Linked DNA regions of Homo sapiens: region 2 is linked to region 1. Evidence: fine-mapped expression QTL. Tissue or cell type: pancreas. Region 1 holds a variant in brackets; the other region holds the start of a gene. All regions are shown on one strand. Distances are between the middles of the regions.

What was found. PIP is the estimated chance that this variant, and not a neighbour inherited with it, causes the effect.
Region 2: CARD6 starts here. The variant in region 1 is fine-mapped to the expression of CARD6 in pancreas (GTEx, PIP 0.92).

What each region holds. Positions count from the first base shown.
Region 1 is chr5:40,813,442-40,824,693 of GRCh38, reverse strand. No RefSeq gene overlaps it. Among named protein-coding and RNA genes, the nearest start is that of SNORD72, 14 kb to the left of the region's middle. The variant C/T (reference allele first, on the strand shown) is at 5,067.
Region 2 is chr5:40,835,649-40,846,686 of GRCh38, reverse strand. CARD6 (caspase recruitment domain family member 6) reads right to left here and starts at 5,320. Exons shown (of 3, transcript NM_032587.4): 1 at 5,022-5,320; 2 at 2,978-3,535. The coding sequence starts at 5,304. RefSeq lists an enhancer at 10,063-10,886.

The DNA.
Region 1 (11,252 bases):
AGCACATATTGTGGAGTAAAATCCTCAAAAGTTTTAAAATTTTTGAACAGTTAAATTTTGAATAGATTTCATATTTATCAGACAACTCTTGGGGTCTGAATAGATGTACTACCTGGAGATTTAAGGATAGTATCACACTCTGCCCTCTGGCATTTTTCAACGTCTTGAGTTCAGACCAATGTTGAAAATCTGTAGATGCAAGCATAGACAGGCACTATATGTATGTAATGAACTACCATGTTTTAGCCCACTAACCAAGTTTTTCTTATTTCTTTGCAATAAGTAAACCTTGGGCCAGCCGTGGTGGCTCACGCCTGTAATCCCAGCACTTTGGGAGGCCAAGGCAGGCAGATTGCCTGAGCTCAGGAGTTTGAGACCAGCCTGGACAACATGCTGAAACCCCATCTCTACTAAAAATACAAAAAATTAGTTGGTCATGGAGGCAAGCAGCTGTAATCCCAGCTCCTCGGGGGACTGAGGCACAAAAATTGCTTGAACCCAGTAGGCGGAGGTTGCAGTGAGCTGAGATTGTGCCACTGCATTCCAGCCTGGGTGACAGAGCAAAACTGTGTCTCAAAAAAACCACCACCAACAAAAAACCTTGATTATTGGACTAAAACATGGTAATTCACTATGTACGTATAAATAACATGTAGAGTATAAAAATTTAAACATTGCTCAGCAGCAGAATGTAAAATAAAACATTTAAACATCTAATAAAAACAGCATATCAGAGTTCAGTGAAGAGAAAGAAATAACAGTAATTTGAACACGAAGTTTAAGGGATTCAGGTAATGAGGGGCTGGGTATTAGAAGTTAAAAAGAACTCTAAAGAGAAAGCAGAAATGGAGTAGCCACTGTCCCTGGAGCTGAGATACAGCACCCAAGGAAGAGTCCTCCTTATCCCCAGAGCTGAGATCTAGATGTCAGAGAAAGTGCAACATAGCTCACTAGATGATGTGTCTTGCCTCTGGGACATCCTGGAAAACCACCAGAAAGAGCACCAGTTGCACTGAGGAGGTGGCTTGTCAACAGCATTCTGCTGTGAAGCTGCTCAAAAAGGTTCTTTGGGAAGCTTGTAGTCATGAGGTGCCTCTGGTCAGTGCACATGGCAGGAGTCTAATGCTGGAGAAGCCACCACATTGCAGGAGCCTAGCCCTGGAGGAATGACAGACCCCTTTCTGACGTTTACCAATTATCTTTTTTTTTTTTTTTTTTTTTTTTGAGATGGAGTTTTGCTCTTGTTGCCCAGGCAGGAGTGCAATGGCGTTATCTCGGCTTACCCTGCAACCTCTGCCTCCCGGCTTCAAGCGATTCTCCTGCCTCAGCCTCCCAAGTAGCTGGGATTATAGGCATGCACCATCACGCCCAGCTAATTTTGTATTTGTAGTAGAGACGGGGTTTCTCCATGTTGGTCAGGCTGGTCTCGAACTCCTGACCTCAGGTGATCCACCCACCTCGGCCTCCCAGAGTGCTGGGATTACAGGCATGAGTCATTGCGCCCGGTCCCAAATATCATTTTAATACAGCTTAGAGCTTGCTATGGTTTGTGTTTGTGTTCTTTTGTCTTAGTCTGTTTTTTGCTGCTATAACAGAATAACTGAGACTGGATATTTACAAAGAACAGGAATTTATACTGTTACAATTTTAGAGACTGGAAGTCCAAGATCAAGGTGCAGGCAGCTTGTGTGGGCCTTCTTACTGCATCTTCATATGGCAGAAGAACGAAGGACAAGAGAGACAAAAGGAGGCTGAATTCACCCTTATTAATTCCACTCATGAGAGCAGGATCACCTCTTCTTTTTTGTTTTGTTTTTGAGACGGAGTCTCGCTCTGTCACCGAGGCTGGAGTGCCGTGGTGTCATCTCGGCTCACTGCAATCTCCGCCTCCCTAGTTCAACCAATTCTCCTGGCTCAGCCTCCCAAGTAGCTGGTACTACAGTACATGCCACCACACCCAGCTAATTTTTGAATTTTTTTTGCAGAGATGGGGTTTTACCATGTTGGTCAGGCTAGTCTCGAACTCCTGACCTCAAATGATCCACCCACCTCAGCCTCCCAAAGTGCTGGGATCACAAGTGTGAGCCACCTTGCCCAGCCAGGATCACTTCTTAAAGGTCCCACTTAACACTGTTATAATGACAATTAAATTTCAACATACATTTTGATGGGGATAAATATTCTAACAATAGCTCACTCCAAAATTCAAGTGGAAACTTAATGTCCCAATGTTATAGTATTGAGGGGTGGGGCCTTTAGGAGGTAGTGAGGTCATGAGGGCTCATCCCCATGAATGCGAATAAGGACTTTATAAAACAGGCTTCACACCCAGTATGGCCCTGTTTGCCCTAAGCCTTCCATCACATAAGGAAATAGCGTTTGTCCCCTTTTGTCTTTCTATCCCTTCCACCATATGAGGACACAGCATTTGTAAGGATGCAGCATTCAAGATACCATCCTGGGAGCAGAAATGGCCCTCACTAGACACTGAATCTGCCTACACCTTGATCTTGGACTTCCCAGCCTCCAGAACTGTGAGAAATACATTTTCGTTGTATATAATTGATATAGTTTGAATATATATATGAATATATAGTATCGTTTGAATATATGTCTCCACCAAATTTCATGTTGAACAGTAATCCCCAATGGTGGAAGTGGGGCCAGGTGGGAGGTATTTGGGTCATGAGGGGCAGACCCCTCATGGCTTGGTGCCATCCTCTAGCTAGTGAATTCTCATGAGATCTGGTCGTTTGAAAGTGTGTGGCACCTCCCACCACTCTCGCTTGCTCCTGTCGTACCATGTAAGATGCCTGCTCCCGCTTTGGCTTCCACCATGAGTAAAAGCTCCTTGAGGCCTCCCCAGAAGCTGAGCAGATGTCGTTGCCATGTTTCCTGTACAGCCTGCAGAGCTATGAGCTAATGAAACCTCTTTTCTTTGTAAATTACCCAATCTCAGGTATTTCTTTATAGAAATGCAAGAATAGCCTAAGAATAATCTACCCAGTTCATGGTATTTTGTTACAGCAGCCCAAACAGACGAAGAATAGTTTTACAACTTGCCTCAGTGATTAATCAGCAAAGTGATTCACTCCCAATCAAAACTTGTTTGAACACTGGTTTGCTAATGATCAAAAATAATTGTCAAGCAGGCAGAATATCCTTGATGACCTGACACACACTTTTTCAACTCTAAAAGGGCATCTTATTTTTGTTTTCTTAAGGAAGTACCTTTCTATGGCTTGCATGAACTGACCAAAGAGGGAAGAAAGTAGGGAATCTTTAACATAGAGCTAGTAGGTAAGGCACACTGTTTAAGATCAGACATAGTGCCTTAGAACACAGCCACACACAGCTTGGTTGATTACATGATACAGCTGATGCAAGTGGGCCTGGACCTGAAACTAGACCTAATAACTAGGAGGAAATTTTGGGAAACATTGGACCAGCATTCCCAAATGCTAAACATGTACACTATCACAAAGACACAATGTTTTACCCATGGAAATTTGTTGCTGTATTATTTATAATACAAGAAAATAGAGCAGCTGTGCTGGGATTACAGGATGTGGTGGCTCATGCCTGTAATCCCAGCACTGTGGGAGGCCAAGGTAGACAGATTGCTTGAACCCAGAAGTTCAAGACCAGCCTGGACAACATGGCGAAACCCCATCTCCACAAAAAATACAAAATTTAGCCAGGCATCATAGCACATACTTGTAGCCCCAGCTACCAGGGAGGCTGAGGTGGCAGGATCACTTGAGCCCAGGAGGTTGAGGCTGCAGCTGTGAGCATGCTACTGCACTCCAACCTGGGTGACAGAGTGAGATTCTGTCTCAAAAAAAAAAAAAAAAAAGAAAAGAAAAAAAGAAAAAGGAAGTAGAAAAGTAGAAACAACTGGCCAGGCGTGGCTCATGCCTGTAATCCCAGAACTTTGGGAAGCCAAGGTGGGTAGATCACTAGAAGACCAGCCTACCCAACATGGTGAAAACCCACATCTCTACTAAAAATACAGAAAATTAGCCGGGCATGGTAGCAGGCACCTGTAATCCCAGCTACTTGGGAGGCTGAGGCAGGAGAATCGTTTGAACACAGGAGGCAGAGCTGCAGTGAGCCGAGATCGCACCATTGCACTCCAGCCTGGGCAACAAGAGTGAAAAGTGAAGGCTGGGCACGGTGGCTCACACCTGTAATCCCAGCACTTTGGGAGGCTGAGGTGGGTGGATCACCTGAGGTCAGGAGTCCAGCCTGGCCAACATGGTGAAAACCCCTCTCTACTAAAAATACCCAAAATTAGCTGGGCGTAGTGGTGGGCACCTGTAATCCCAGCTACTCAGGAGGCTGAGACAGGAGAATCGCTTGAACCCGGGAGGTGGAGGTTGCAGTGAGCTGAGATCATGCCATTGCACTCCAGCCTGGGCAACAAGAGTGAAACTGTGTCTCAAAAAAAAAAAAAAAAAAGAAAAGAAAAGAAAAGAAAAAGAAAAGTAGAAACAACTAAATCCCCTAAGTAGAGGTTGAGGTTGAGTTAAATAAATTATGGCATATCTTAATGGAATAGTAAAACAGCTCTTCAAACAAACAAACAAACAAACAAACAAAAACAACCAAGGCTTTACTAGCTTCAGTAGTCAAGATAGTGAGTATTGGTGTAATAATAGATATATACACCAGTGAAACATAATGGAATCCAGATATAGGCTCACAGAAATATGGTCATTGATTTTTGACAAAGATGTCAAGGTAATTCAATCAAGAAAGGATAATCTTTTCAGCAAATTGTACTGGAACAACTAGACATCCATATGCAAAAATAAAATAAAAATAGAGTCTCTGTTCTGAGACTTAACAGAGTTAAATAAATAAATAAGTAGAATCTCTGCATGGAACTGCAGGTGAACAGAAAAAATATTTTTAATAAAATTAAAAGACTCTCAAACCTTGACTTGTACCACTAAGTCAGGATGGATCAACGATATAAATGTAAAACCTAAAATTCTAAAAACCTATGAGAAAAACAGGAGAAAATCTTTGTGACTTAGGGTTAGGCAAAGATTTCTTAGATA[C/T]GACATAAAAAGCACTATCTATTTTTTTAAATGATAAATTGGGCTTTATCACAACTAAACTCTCTGTTTTCCAAAAGACACAAGAAAATAAAAAGGTTTGGAGAAAATATATAAATACATGTATGATATGTATATATATATATATATATATATACACATACATATCACTTGAACCTGGGAGGCGGAGGTTGCAGTGAGTGGAGATCATGCCACTGCACAGAGTGAGACTCCATCTCAAAAAAAAAAAAAAAGAAAAGAAAACAAAAAACATTTTTTTTTTTTTTGAGACAGAGTCTCACTCTGTCACCCAGGCTGGAGTGCAGTGGCATGATCTCGATCTCGGCTCACTGCAAGCTTTGCCTCTTGGGTTCACGCCATTCTCCTGCCTCAGCCTCCTGAGTAGCTGGGACTACAGGCACCTGCCACCACACCCGGCTAATTTTTTTTTTGTATTTTTAGTAGAGACGGGGTTTTACCGTGTTAGCCAGGACGGTCTCGATCTCCTGACCTCATGATCCATCCGCCTCGGCCTCCCAAAGTGCTGGGATTACAGGCGTGAGCCACCGAGCCTGGCCAAAACCAATTTTTTTAAATGGGCAAAATATCTGAACAGATAGTTCATCAAATAATAAATATGCATGGCAAATAAACAGATGCAAAGATGCTCAACATCATTAGTCCTTAGGGAAATGCAAATTGAAATACAATGGAATAATATTGCACATCTACTAGAATGGCTAAAATAAAAAATATACAATGACAATATCAAGTGCCAATGAGAAATTCTTTGCTGGTAGAAATGAAAAATGATACGGCCACTTTGAAAAAAATTTGGCTGTTTCTCACAATTCGCAATTGCAAAGATAACCAACTTAAGTGCCCATCAACCAACGAGTGGATAAAGAAAATGTGTTTTATATACACAGTAGAATACTACTCAGCCATAAAAAGGAATGAAATAATGTCTTTTGCAGCAACTTGGATGGAGCTAGTGGCCATTATTCTAAGTGAAGCAACTCAGGAATGAAAAACCAAATATATGTTCTCACTTATAAGTGGCAGCTAATCTATGAGGATGCAAAGGCATAAGAATGATGTAATGGACTTTGGGGACTTATCAGGGAAGTTCAGGAGGAAAATTAGGTATAAAAGACTGTATATTGGGTACACTGTACACTGCTTGGGTGATGGGTGCGTTAAAGTTTCAGAAATCACCACTAAAGAATGTATCCATGTAACCAGAAACCACCTGGACCCTAAAAACTATTGAAATAAAAAATTTTTAATGCGGCTGTTTCTTATAAAGTGAACAATACATTTACTATACAACCCCAGCAATCCCACTCTTAACTATATCTACTCGAGAAGAATGAAAACACAGTCTTGTGTGTGAATGTTTATAGAAGGCTATTCCTGCTCCAAGAACTGGAAACAACTTAAACATTGTAAGTAGAGAATGGACAAATTTTGGTATATGCATACAATGGAATACTATTCATCAATAAAAATAAATGAACTACTGATACATGCAACACAATATGGATGAGTCTCAAAACAAAAGGATTATGCTAAGTGAAAGGAGTTGGATACAAAAGGCTGCATACTGTACAGGTCCTTTTTTTTTTTTTTTTTTTTTTTTTTTCAGACAGAGTCTTGCTGTGTCTCCCAGGCTGGTGTGCAGTGCAGTGGCAAGATCTTGACCCACTGCAGCCCCCGCCTCCTGGATTCAAGCAATTCTCCTGCCTCAGCCTCTGGAGTAGCTGGGATTACAGGTGCTCACCACCATGCCCACCTAATTTTTGTATTTTTAGTAGAGATAGGGTTTCACCATATTGGCCAGGCTGGTCTTGAACTATTTTTTTTTTTTTTGAGATGGAGTCTCACTCTGTTGCCCAGGCTGGAGTACAATGGTATGATCTCGCTCATTGCAACTTCTGCCTCCTGGGTTCAAGCAATTCTCCTGCCTCAGCCTCCCTAGTAGCTAGGATTACAGGCACCCACGACCAGGCCCGGCTAATTTTTGTATTTTTAGTAGAAACGGGATTTTGCCATGTTGCCCAGGCTGGTCTCCAACTCCCGACCTTTGGGATCTGCCCGCCTTGGCCTCCCAAAGTGCTGGGATTACAGGCGTGAGCCACCACGCCCAGCCTGGTCTCGAACTCTTGACATCAAATGGACCACCTGCCTTGGCCTCCCAAAATGCTGGGATTATAGGCATGAGCCACTGTACCTGGCCACAATTCTCTTTATATGACATTCTGAAGAAGGCAAAACTAGAGGGACAGAAATCAAAAAGGCATAAGGGAATGTTTTTGGGTGATGGAGGTATTTCATATCTTTATTATGGAATTTACACAACTATATACAGTTTCTTTTCTTTTTTCTTTCTTTTTTTTTTTTTGAGATGGAGTTTTGCTCTTGTTGCCCAGGCTGGAGTGCAATGGCGCAATCTCAGCTCCCCGCAACCTCCACCTCCCGGGTCCAAGTGATTCTCCTGCCTCAGCCTCCCTAGTAGCTGGGATTACAGGCATGTGCCACCACATCTGGCCAATTTTATATTTTTAGTAGAGAGGGGTATCTCCATATTGGTCAGGCTGGTCTCGAGCTCCTGACCTCAGGTGATCTGCCCGCCTTGGCCTCCAAAAGTGTGGGATTACAGGCATGAGCCACTGCACCTGGCCACAACTATATACATTTTTTGAAGCTCATAGAACTCTACACCTAGGCCAGGCAGGGTGGCTCAAATCTGTAATCCTAGCACTTCGGGAGGCCGAGGCAGGAGGATTACTTGTGCTCAGGAGTTCGAGACCAGCCTGAGCAACAATGTGAGACTCCGTCTTTACTTAAAAAAAAATTAATAAAATATATATACACACACACACATATATATATATACACATATATATATACACACATATATATACACATACATATATATATATAAAACTCTACACTTAGGGTGAATTTTACTGTATGTAAATTATACTTCAGTAAACTTAACTTTGAAAAGAAAGAATAAGAGAAATTAGAAGACGATGGAGCAATACCTTCAAAATTCTGAAGGAAATGTTTTCCAACTTAAAACCCTATATATATATATATCCAGCCAAACTATAAAGTGTAAGAATAGAATAAAGATTTTCAACAAATATAGTCTCAGAAAAATGTGCTTCCCTGAGCCTTTCTCATAAAACTACTTGTGGGACACGTTTCTCCTAAAACTAGGGAGGAAAAAAAAAGAAAAACAAAAACACACAAAAGGAAAACTATGGCATGCAGAAAACAATAAATCCAACACAAGAGAAGGAGAAAAGGCATATCCAGGATGGTGTTGAAGGAAAAATTTTGGGTGATAACTGTGAGACGGGAGTGGGAGGCAAACAATTGAAGCAGGTAAGAAAGCTCCAGGATAGCTGTGTTCAAGATGAAACTGATAACACACCGTATGCATTTCAATGTCTTGAAATATTTCAGACAATTGGTAGAGAGTTTGGGTTGAATTAATAATAAGTACATAGAAGCCTAAGCAAGTAAAAAACATGATAAAGTCTTAATTCCAGACCAAAAAAAAAAGGCTTTTAGTAAAGGCCAATTATAGCATACGTAATCCAATGAAGCACCTAGAAAATCCTCTGTGTTAAAATTTCTTAGTTAAGCAATTTGACCCATTTCAGAAAAAATAAAGTATATCCGAACAAATTCCTAACAGAAAGAAAGTGAACTTCCCTCATAAAACCAGCTTAATTTCTGAAATTAAAAGCTCAACACATTTCATGATATACTTGAATTTAATTGTTTTACTCTGTGTAAGAGAAATAACAGATACAAAGACTGTGAGAATTAAATTAGTAATTCCATATACTGATTATGTATGTGTCTTAATTTGTTTGGGCTGCTATAACAAAATGCCTTAGACTGGATAATGTATAAACAATAGAAATGTATAGCTCACAGTTCTAGAGGCTGTGAAATCAACATCAAGGCACAGACAGTCTTGGTGTCTGGTAAGGGCTCTCTGCTTCAAAGATGGTGCCTTCTTGCTATCCTCACGTAACAGAAGGGAAAAGCAGCTCTCTGGGGCCATTTTAATAAGGCCATTAAATCTCATGCACAAGAGCAAAGTTCTCATGATCTAATCACCTCCCAAAGGCCCCACCTCTTAATATCATTGAGGGTTAGTTTTCAACATCTGAATTTTGGCAGGACACAAACATTCACACCATAGCATTACGTAAGGAATAATGTTCTTTACAGAAAAAGAAAAATAATTAGGTCTTTATCTTTTCTTTCTTACATTATTAATTACTGAAACCACCAAAGCTATACAATTGCTTAGTTCTTTGGAGTATTTTCTCTTGAAACATACAGTTAATGGGCCGGGTGCTGTGGCTCATGCCTATAATCCCAGCACTTTGGGAGGCTGAGGCGGGCAGATCACGAGGTCAAGAGATCAAGACCATCCTGGCCAAGATGGTGAAACTCTGTCTCTGCTAAAAATACAAAAAAATTAGCTGGGTGTGGTGGCTCTCACCTGTAGTCTCAGCTACTCGGGAGGCCGAGGTATGAGAATCACTTGAACCTGTAAGGCAGAAGTTGCAGTGAGCCAAGATCGTGCCACTGCACTCCAGCCTGGCGACAGAACGAGACTCCATCTCAAAAAAAAGAAATATACATTTAATGTAATATTTGACAAAACTATACCATTGTAAGATTCCTTTAAAAAGTATAAACTATTTTCAAATGTTTGAAAAAATATATTCAAGTGGAGACCAATCTTGCTTAAATGTTTTTATGTTTTATATTTTGCTTCTTGCAAAAGCATTTGAGGCTGTCAGAAAAGATATGGATGAACCTTAAATGCACATTGCTAAGGGAAATAAGCCAGTCTGGAAAGACTATATACTGTATGAGTCCAATTATATGACATTCTGAAAAAGGCAAACTATAGAGACAGTAAAAAGAGGTGAAGGGTTAAATAGGTGAAGCACAGGGAATTATTATTTTAGGGTGATGAAACTATTCTGTATGATACTGTAATAGTGGATATATGACATTATACAGTTGTCAAAACCTACAGAACTTTATAGCACAAAGTGAACCTTAAAGTATGCAAATCCTTAAAAAAATCATTTTGGGCTGGGCGTGGTGGCTCATGCCTGTAATCTCAGCACTTTGGGTGACTGAAGTGGGCAAATCGCTTGAGCCCAGGAGTTCAAGACCAGCCTGGGCAAAATGGCGAAACCCTGTCTCTACAAAACATATAAAAAATGAGCCAGGCATGGTGGTATGCATCTGTAGTCCCAGCTACTTAGGAGGCTGAGCTGGGAGGATCAGATGAGCCCGAGAGATTGAGACTGTAGTGAGCCATGATCATGTCACTGCACTCTAGTCAGGGCTACAGAGTGAGACCCTGTCTCAAAAAACAAAACAAAACACCCCATAAAACATTTTGGAGGTTGTGGTTGTGGTGTAAGGCCTAAAATTAAGGCTCAATATTATGTGTTGTCTTGACATCTGGTAAAACTGGGAGGGCCTTAAATTGCCTAGTGGTAAGTTCTCCTTCCCACTCTGCTCCCATGTGTAAGCTCCCCCAGCTCTTTGTCAAATGGACGGGCAAAGTTTTGCTAATCCCTGAGTAGTGGGTTTCAGTTTCCTGCCAGCTCTTGGAATTACTCAAACAACCAATTACATCCTCCACAGGAACCAGGGGCACCCCATCCTCTTGATACCACAAAGCCTGCCTCCCACAGCTTGATTGTTCATTCTGCTCCTGAATGCAGAGTGTGGCCCTGAGTGGTATGCGGTGTTCTTTTCCAGGCTGAGAGTATATGTAACTAACAGACTGCTGTTCACATCATCTGTTGTGTTGGGTGTTATGTGTTTGGTCATCCCCATTACCCTAGGGCAGGAATCCCTCCTTCACCAACAGGGAGAACAGCAAGTGATTAAAACAGAGACTGGGGGACTGGGGGAAATCCCAGATGGAATGCAGATTGTGACAACATAACCTATCTGGTATGATACATGTATGAAACAACCTCACTGAAAAGAGTGGAGGATGGGCCAGGCACGGTGGCTCACACCTGTAATCCCAGCACTTTGGGAGGTTGAGGTGGGTGGATCACCTGAGGTCGGGAGTTCAAGACCAGCCTGACCAACATGGAGAAACCCCGTCTCTACTAAAAA
Region 2 (11,038 bases), 22 kb before region 1:
ATGATGTGAAGAGACACAGGGAGAAAATGGCCATCTGTAAGTCAAGGAATGCACGAAGCTACCAGGGGCTAGGAGAGAAGCCTGAGACAAATCCTTTCCTAGCACCTCCAGAGGGAGCATGACCCTCCTGATACCTTGATATCAGGCTTCTGGCCTCCTGAACTGTGAGACAAGAAATTTTTGTTGTTCTAAAGCCACTCATTTGTGGTACTTTGTTACAGCAGCCCTAGGAAACAGATACAGATGGCATAGATGGCATGATGATCGTTCTAAAGCTAAGACTCAAAAGGCCTTCACTACTTCTCTGTCTCCCCCCCTCCACCTTGCTCTCTCTCCCTTTCTCTCTCCTTTACCCTCATCATAAGAATATACTTGGCCAGGCGCGGTGGCTCATGTCCATAATTCCAGCACTTTGGGAGGCCGAGGTGGGTGGATCACCTGAGGTCAAGAGTTCGAGACCAGCCTGGCCAACATGGTGAAACCCCATCTCTACTAAAAATACAAAAATTAGCCAGGCGTGGTAGTGGGCACCTGTAATCCCAGCTACTCAGGAGGCTGAGGCAGGAGAATCGCTTGAACCCAGGAGGCAGAGGTTGCAGTGAGCCAAGATCATGCCACTGCACTCCAGCCTGGGCAACAGAGTGAGCCTCCATCTCAAAAAAAAAAAAAAGAATATACTGCATCTATTCTGAAAACAAGCCCAGAGTAGCCTGCTTGAAGATGAGAGACCAGCCTTCAACCACCTCATCACAGATGCATGAGTGAACCCAGGGAAGACCAGCAGAACTGCCCAGCCAACCACAGACATGTGAACAATAATAAACTCTCAGTGTTTGAAGTGACTGAATTTTCAGATGATTTGTTATGTAGCATTATTGAGGCCAGGAGTTCAAGACCAGCCTGGGCAACGTGGTGAAACCCAGTCAGTACCTGATACAGAAAAAAAATTTCATGAAAACCAAACAATATGTAAGAGATGCACTGCAATATTAGAATGTTACCTACGGAAGAAGGTAAATGGGAAATGGAGAAAAAAACAGAATAGATAAACAGGGGATTTTTGCAGAATAATGATGATACTATGCAATGAATTAATTAATTCAACCCTATGCACCAACTAAAATAAATAAATAAAAATTAAGAATGGGGCCCCAAAATAATCATGTATTAAGAAGTTATTTGGGGGTGGGGCAAGAGGCATGGGTTGAATTATGTCCCTTACAAAATTCATATGTTGAAATCCTAACCCCCAGTACCTCAGAATGTGATGTTATTTGGAAATAGGGCCATTGCAGATGTAATTAGTTTTAATAATGTTATTAGGGTGGGCCCTAATCCAATATGACTGGTGTCCTTTTTTATTTTGGCCAAAGGGGTGCACACTCAGGGACAAGGACATTTGAAGGTGAAGGCATATCAGAGGGATGCTTGCACAAGCCAAGCAGTGTCAATGATTTCCAGCAAACCACCAGGAAAGCTAGGATCCTTCAGATCACATCCTTCAGAAGGAACCAACCCTTGTCCAGGCACAGTGGCTCATGCCTTAATCCCAGCATTTTGGGAGGCCAAGGTGGGTGGATTACTTGAGGTTAGGAGTTCGAGACCAGCCTGGCCAACATGGTGTAACCTCGTCTCTACTAAAACAACAAAAATTAGCCAGGCGTGGTGGCACGCACCTGTAATCCCAGCTACCTGGGGAGCTGAGGCAGGTGAATCGCTTGAACCCGGGAGGCGGAGGGTACAGTGAGCAAGGTCACACCATTGCACTCCAGCCTGGGCGACGAGTGAGACTCTGTTTCAAAAAAAAAAAAAAAAAAAGAAGGAAGCAACCCTGTCAGTACTTTGATACTTTGATTTCAGATTTCTAGCCTCCAAAAGAGTGAGACAAGAAATCTGTGTTTATTGTTTAAGCCACTGATTTTGTGGTATTTTGTTACAGCATCCCTCACAAACTGATACAAGGTGTGATGAGGAAGAAATGACTCTCTTCCTACCCATAAGTGGATTATGAGTCCCCAAGATTTGAAATTAATGTGAGATGGTAGCTACATTTTCATCCTCTACTCAGAACTTAGTGATGTCTGTTTTCCCAGGCAATATCACTCCAATGAAACACTTCTCATATTTTGAATTTTCATTAAGAAATATTCAGATTTGGCTAGGTGCAGTGGCTCACACCTGTAATCCCAGGATTTTGGGTGGCCAAGGTGGGCAGATCACTTGAGCCCAGGAGTTCGAGACCAGCCTGAGCAACATGGCAAAATCCCATCTTTACAAAATACAAAATTAGCCAGGCGTGGTGGCAGGCACCTGTAATGCTAGCTACTCAGGAGGCTGAGGTAGGAGGATCACCCGAGCCTGGGAGGTAGAGGCTGCGGTGAGTCATGATTGTGCCACTGCACTCCAGCCTGAGTGAGACCCTGTTTAAAAACAAATTTTTTTTAAATAAAGAAATATTCAGATTCAAGATACAAATATAATTCTCATCAAGATGGCATTATGTGGACTGGATCAAGCCAAGTAACAATATTTTGGGATCTTAGCCATTTACTGACTGTTTTCACTTAAATAGTCAAACCCATAATCCCCATATCTCTCTGGTCACAAAGGCACTAAAATAACTAAAGTGGTTTAACCTGAGAAATAGGTTAGCCTGAAATTAATGATTAGCAACTCCTCGTACGTATAATGGGAAATTAATGATTGGCAACTCCTTATACGAACTACAGAAATTTACAAACTGACAATCAATATTTACTTTTGCTTATGCTGTCCATCATTTCCTAGGTCCTGGGAGCTCCTTTAAGTCAACACCTACCTCGAGGAGATTCCAGGTCAGAGAGGCACGAGGAATTTCTTAGTAGTTGATTTTCTGCTGACATCTGTCCCTTTTTCATCCCCCATCCCCATTATGTCATGGCAAGCTTATTAACTTATTAAGTTGTTGCCTAACTAACTATACAAGATATTTCCATACCTTCTATACTTTTCTCCTGTTCCTCCTCCAATGAAAGGCTGGTTTCTGATCCCTCATAACTTGGTTCTTCACCAGAGAACTCTGTGGTTTCTGAATTCTCGAAGTCCTCTTCACCATCATATCCAACGTGCTCTGGGTCATCATAAACCTCCTCTTCCACAGTGGCTTCTGCATCTTCAGGGGTGTCAACAGATCCTAGATATTCCTCTTTTCCTAAGTATAAAGAATCATCTAGCTCCTCATATCTCTGTCCATCTTTTATATATGTAATAGTTGCTGGAACTTCACATCCAACTTTCTCAACTGAATATGATAATGTGACTTCTGGTGTGTCATATTCCTTCTCATTCTTCCTGGCAGACAAAGCTGTTTCCCTATAACTAGTTTTCTTGTCCCTGAAAAACTCAGAGGTTTCCAAATCCAAGTGTTCCTTCTCACTGAAGAACACTGTGATCTCAGGGGCTTCAGGCTGTTTTATTCCAGGAGAAAAAGCATCTTCTGAATTACTGCTTGCCCCCATAGATTGAGGAGGTACTGTATTCTCATGTTTTAAAACTTCTGCAAAGAAAAGAATTGTTTTTCCCAATTAAGAAAAAGAAGCTGTATAACAGCTAGAGTTCCTGAGGCCTCAAAGCTTCATCCCTCTCCTTTTATTTATTTATTTATTTTTTGAGACAGAGTTTCACTCTTGTTGCCGAGGCTGGAGTGCAATGGCACGATCTGGGCTCACTGCAACCTCAACCTCCCGGGTTCAGGTGATTCCCCTGCCTCAGTCTCCCAAGTAGCTGGGATTACAGGCATGCGCCATGATGCCCAGCTAATTTTTGTATTTTTAGTAGAGACAGTGTTTCACTATGTTGGTCAGGCTGGTCTCAAACTCCTGACCTCAGGTGATCCATCTGCCCCGGCCTCCCAAAGTGCTGGGATTACAGGTGTGAGCCACAGCGCCCAGCCACCTCTTATTTCACTGGAGGACAGGAATACCTAACACCTCCTATATAACTTGCATGTCAACATGTCAACTTTCAGAACTTTCTTTTTTCCACTAAAAAAAAAAATCAGATCACACCACTGTCTTGCTTAAAGTTTGAGTCCTTCCTAGCAACCTTACAGGGTAAGTGAATAAAACGAAAAATTTGAATCATATGAACAGTGTTTACTTGTGGACTTACTGTGACTCACAACAGACTCACGTCTCTTGGGGTCATTGCTAATGAAATCTGATCACAAATAATTTCTAATCAGTAAGCAAATGGCTCTATTTGGAATAGTGTGCTTTAGAAATAATAAAAGAAAAATTTCTAAGCATATAAATCTTGTCCTAAATTAGGTATCACTAACATTCACCTTTTTATCTGAGCCTCTACCTCTCTAACATCCCTTAAAATAATTTTGAATTTTTTTTTAGATTCCTAGAAAAAGAGCTAGACCTAGTCCTAGTAGTAATTTACAGAATTGCTAAATAACTGGAAGAATTGCTTTTTCATGGACTACTAGTTATCTTTGAACCATTTAAGAATTAGCACTGGAATTGCTCCAGAAAACAGCTGCTGCTGGCATTCTTATCACCAAAAAAATGAAACTACTGATTTGCCATCTATGTGTTAAAAATTATTTTCCTTGTATTTTCAAAACGGCTATACTAAGTGAAAGATACAGCTTGTGGTCTTGGCACTGTAAATATCCACGAATTCATCTACTTGAAAAACAAACCCTGGATTGTGTTATTATTAAAGTATTTTCCTTCCAACTGTGAGATTTTAGCATGTTACTGCCAGAATAATGAGCAGTTTGTTAGCACTAAAACAACTTCAAGTTTTGAGTACAGTCTGAAAAACAAATTATCGATTCAGTAGACCAATAAGATGTTAAATTTCAGAAACTTTTTAAATTCCAGTTTTTCCCTATTTCATATTTCAATGAAAATTATCTCCAGAAAAAGACTAACAAAAATAAAAGGCAACAATTTTCTTTCATTTTGTTTTCTTTTTCAGAAAGTCTGCCCCCTTCCTCTCACCCCAAAAAGTATACAAAGTCAACTTACCATGCCTTAAGCCGCAAATGGCAGCTGACTGTGGAAAAGTACTAAATAAACACTTGAGAAAATGCTGACAGGTCGCCTCTCCCTTTTTCTGTACCAAAATTAACAGCTTCCGACTTTTCTTCAGGAGATCTGTAACATTCTCCAGAGTCTCATACTCTTCCTCAGAAATCAGCCTCCGAGAAGTTAACGTGTCTAAGATAGAATCAGGATCATGTTGAAGGATTTCAAGCAACTTTTTTCTTTCTCTTTCTATGATCTCTGAGGGAGTACTCTCGGTAGCCATTGTTCCTGTTTCCTCTAAACCAGGAAATATATTATGAAATCATCCTAATGAATAAGTAAAAGTTAAAAAAAGAATGACAAAGAACAATTCTATTTGGCTAAGCTTTAACATGTCAATGATGCCTAGTGTTGGAGAGTGCAGATACAAGCACAGTGGGGCAACCCAGCTCGGAGCACTCTCTGATCCGGGGTCCTTGTGGATTATTTATCTGCTCTTTTGAAGTCTTGATAAATTCTCACCATGACTCAGACCCAGGGTCACCTCCTCCAAGAAGTCGCTCTTGAACTTCAGGTTGGACTAGGTATTCCCTGCTCAGAGAACTATACTATGATGCCAAGAATGTAAATTATTAATTGATATTTGGTGGGCAATATGGCAATATACAGCAATAAATAAATAAAGTTGAAGACAGACAAAAATAAAACTTCATATCCTTCAACCCAGCAATTCCAGTTCTAGGAAATTATCTTAAGGAAATAATTGAGCAAATGCCCGAAGATGTATGTACAAGAATCTGCATTACAACATTGTTTACAACAGTACAAAATTGAAAATAACCAAAGTTGGGGTTTAGGGAATAAATATTGACATGTCGACAGTGAAACACCAAAGAACTGTTAAAAAGGATAAAGTACATCTCTACATATTGACAAGTAATGATATCCATGATATATTGCTATGGAAACAGCAAGTTATAGATCTCATTTTTGTTTTAAAAAACTTAATGTGTATATAGTATATGTATATAATATGTATATGCAGATATGCATTATATTTTAAAGAAGACAAGAGATATCCCAAATTTTAACACTGGTTATCTCTGAGAATATGACTACAGGGAGATTTATACTTCCACTTTAAACATTACTATTTAATATTTTACATTTTTGGTTTTTTATTATTATTTATTTTAAGAAAATTACCTGGTTGGTCTTTATTTACTCCTTCATAGTTCACAAGAACCTGAAAGCGATCTGCATAACTAGCAACAGGATACTGGATGAATAAACTGTGATATTTCTTATAACATAATATTACATGGCATTCAAAAAGAATGAACTTCAGTGACCCACAATATAGAGAAATCATAACAATAGTAAGGAAAAACTGTAAATCCCAAAAGATTATATACAGTATGACAACCTTTTTAAAAGTTGAAAATAAACACACCCTTACATTTAAGAGTATACATGAAGTCATTAAAATTATACAAAACAAAAAGCAAAGAATGATAAATATGAAATTCAGAATGATGGTTACCTCGCATATGGGGAGCTTGGGGATGGGATGGGATTGGGGAGGAGATCATGGATGTCCTACAATGTAGGAGTTGGGCCTATCAGGGCTACTATATTGTTAAAGGTAAATAGCTAATATGTAAATAAAAGCAGAACATGCATGAACCAATGCTATTAGGAACCAAGGATAATGAGTAATACAATTCTGGTATCTCCAAGGTTAAAAAAGAATTTTAAAATCCTGGCTGGGCGAGGTGGCTCATGCCTGTAATCCCAGCACTTTGGGAGTCTGAGGAAGATCACTTGAGACCAGGAGTTTGAGGCCAACCTGAGCAACATAGCAAGACCCTGTCTCTACAAAAAATTTAAAAATTATCTGGTCGTGATGGTGCGCATCTGTAGTCCCAGCTGCTTGGGACAGGAGGCTGAGGCAGGAGAGCTGCTTCGGCCCAGAAGTTTGAGGTTGTAGTAAGTTACTCTAGCCTAGGCTCTTAAAAAAAAAAATCCTCATATGATATTAAAAATTAATATTAGGTAAGAGTTTTATAAAATTGAAGAGTTTTAAAATTTTTATTTACTTTGACCAATTATAATCATATATAGTTATGGGATATTCAGTAATTTTATATGTATGCAGTATGGAATGATTCACTCAAATTAACATATACATCACCTTCAATACTTATAATTTATTCCTCCTGTCTGTGACTTTGTATCCTTTGACCAGCACCCTTCCCTTCCCCGCAACTCCCAGCCTCTCTCTGGTAACCACCATTATACTCTAGGTAAGAGTTTTAAAATATGTATCTCAAAAGTATGGCTTTCAAGTGATGCATCCCACCTCATGTCCACAATTTGATTGGCACTGTCATAAAGATTGCCAATTTTTTGTTGTTGTTGTTCAACTTGACCAGGAAGGTACTTTAATAACAGGTGTCCCAAACCACCAGTCTCCTCTCCAATGCTCAACCCTAAATATGCTCCTTTCTCACAGTAACCTTTCTGAGATTTCAAAGCCAATGGGAAAAAAGTGTTCACTTGAAGTGGGAAACTTAGCACTGAAATTTAAACTTCTTTCTACAAGTTTTCCTTTTGTTTTGTTTTGAAACAGAGTCTCACTCTGTTGCCCTGACTGGAGTGCAATGGTGCAATCATAGCTCACAGCAGCCTCAAACTCCTGGGCTCAAGCAATCCTCCCCCCTCAGCTTCCTGAGCAGCTGGGAGTATAGGCTTGCGCCAACCTGTTCAGCTCTTTTTAAAAAAAAAATTTTGTGGAGACAGGGTTTCACTACATTGTCCAGGCTGGTCTCGAACTCCTCGGTTTAAGCAATCTTCCCGCCTTGGCCTCCCAAAGTGCTAAGATTACAGGCGTGAACCATATTTTTTTTATTATTTGTAGAGATGGGGTCTCTCTATGTTGCCCAGGCTGTCCTGGGCTCAAGTGATCCTCCCACCTTAGCCTCCCAGAGTGCTGCGATTACAAGTGTAAGCCACCATGCCAGGCTGTCTAGTTTAAATTGTTTGTTGATGGCCGGGTGCGGTGGCTCACGCCTGTAATCCCAGCACTTTGGGAGGCTGAGGTGGGCGGATCACCTGAGGTCGGGAGTTCAAGACCAGCCTGACCAACATGGAGAAACCCCATCTCTACTAAAAATACAAAATTAGCCGGGCATGGTGGTCGATGCCTGTAATCCCAGCTACTTGAGAGGCTGAGGCAGGAGAATCACTTGACCCCGGGAGACGGAGGTTGCGGTGAGCCAAGATAGCATCATTGCACTCCAGCCTGGGCAACAAGAGCAAAACTCCGTCTCAAAAAAAAAAATTGTTTCTTAATAACAGAAATTTGCATACCACAGCCTTAGAATGCAAAGGAAGTGAGGTGGGGGAAGGATGAGTGTAACCAGGATGTTCTCTATTATATAAAATATAGCCAGGAGGTACAAAATTGAAAGTATAGACCTCAAATCAGAATAATAACACAGGATTAAAAGTTTTAAATGTGTTCTATTTTATTATTGTTGTTTTTTGAGCTTTTTTTGTTTTGTTTTGTTAGGCTAGTCTCGAACTCCCAACCTCAGGTGATCTGCCTGCCTCAGCCTCCCAAAGTGCTGGGATACAGGTGTAAGCCACCGCACCCAGCCTTATTATTAGTTGTTGTTAATCTTACCGTGCTAATTCATAAATTAAACTTTATCATAGGTATGAATGTACAGTAAATTCTCCCTTGAATTGCTCCTAATGAATTTATGTGATGTTTTAAAGACAAAAGTCAACAGTAATTTCATGTATTGTAGAAATAAAAAGAGGCAGGTCTCAGTGCTGAGTCCTGGTGGTCAAGAGACTTGATTGTATCAGAACCATGGATGCAGGACTTAACATAGTTTCTATCACTGCCAAAAAGCAAAATGTCAGGGGGTGAATGCCTAGGCTAACAGCCTTAGATCATCCGTTTCAGATGTTGATCTAGTCCTGGCTGGGCGTGGTGGCTCACACCTGTCATCCCAGAACTTTGGGAGACTGAGGGGGTGCTGATCACTGGAGGTCAGGAGTTCGAGACCAGCCTGGCCAACATGGTGAAACCCTGTCTCTACTAAAAATACAAAATATTAGCCAGGCGTGGTGGTGGCGTGCGCCTGTAGTCCCAGCTACTTGGGAGGCTGAGGCACAAGAATTGCTTGAACCCGGGAGGTAGAGGTTGCAGTGAGTCGCGATGGCACCACTGCACTCCAGGCCAGGTGACAGGTGAGACCCTGTCTCAAAAAAAAAAAAAAAAAAAAAGTTGATACAGTCACTAGCCCTGACCTAAACCTAGCAATTGTATAGAAAATTGGAGGGTCTGACTAGCCTTCATAGACCTCTTTAAAGAAAGCCAAGGGTTTACTTGATCAGGGCAAAATTTACATGGTTTGACATACACCAAAAAGAACCACCGAACACTAGAGAGAGGAGGAAAAATAATTCTCTCCTGTCTTCAATTCTGGGAATGTCTGGAGTAAAGAGACTGACATAATGCCTGTCACACTGCTTGGTTCCTTAATGGTTGACACCTGTCCTACCTTTTCTACACTGACCTCATTTCTCATAGTCCCCGTGGTAGGCAGAATAATGGCTGTCTCCAAAGATAACAAGGTATTAATCCCCTCAACCTACGAATAAATTAGGTTATGTGGCAAAGGACAATTATAATTGCAGAGGGAATTAAGGTTGCTAATTAGCGAAACTCGAGATAAGGAAGTTACCTGGATGGAGTCAATGTAATCACAAGGGGCCTTAAAAGTAGGAGAAGGATGGCAGGGCACCCGAACCCTTTGAGAGACCAAGACAGGAAGATTCAGGAGTTCAAGACCAGTCTGGACAACAGTGAGACCTTGTCTCTACTACAAATAAAAATAAAAGGAAAGGAAAAAGAATAAGACAGATGCAGAATAAAGAGTAATGCAATGTGAGAAAGACTACAGTAGTCTCCACTTATCCAAGGTTTCCCTTTGCAGGATTTCAGGGTTTGTTACCCCATGGCCAACCATGGTTTAAAAATAGTTGAGTACAGGACAATAAGATATTTTGAGAAAAAGAGACCGACCACATTCACATAACTTTTATTACAGTATACTGTTATGATTGTTCTATTAGTTGTTGTTAATCTTTTATGGTGCCTAATTCATAAATTTAACTTCATCACAGGTACACATGTACCGAAAAAACAGTATATATAGGGTTTGGTATTGTGGTTTCAGGCATCCACTGAGGGTGTTGGAACTTAACCCACAGAAACGGGGGGGAACTACAGTATCACTGGTTTTGAAGATGCAAGGGAGCAATAAACCAAGGAGTTTGGGCAGTCTCTAGAAGCTGAGAAAGGAAAGAAAACAGATTCTCCCTCCTAGAACGGAAAGCAGCTCTGGCAACATTTTATTTTTAGTTTTCTCAGTTTTTTTTGAGACAGAGTCTCACTCCGTCATCCAAGCTGGAGTGCAATGGCGCAATCTCGGCTCACTGCAACCTCCACCTTCCGGGTTCAAGCCTCCCTCCACCTCCACCCCCTGAGTAGCTGGGTTGGCAGGCGCGCGCCACCACGCCTGGATAATTTTTTGTATTTTTTTTGTAGCGACAGTGTCTCCCTATGTTGCCCAGGCTGGTCTCCAACGCCTGGGCTCAAGAGATCCGCCCGCCTCAGCCTCCCAAAGTGCTGGGATTACAGGCGTAAGCCACGGCGCCAGGCCCTTGGAAACTATATTGAACAAGTTCCATGTGTGATTCCTTGGCACAATGAAATATGGGATCAGATAACTTGCCTCTGATTTACTACAGTAACAACAACAACAAAATCACTGTCTGCTTTTCCCTTTATATTCTAAGCTCCAGCTCCATGCCTCCGTACTCCTAGCGACCTCTCGCAGGGAAAGTCAGCGTCGGCCAAAAGCCTCCGGGATCGGAATGAGGAGGCTGCTGGAGAAGTTGCTTTCTCCTAAAAGGGATTATCCCAGGCGCACACGGTC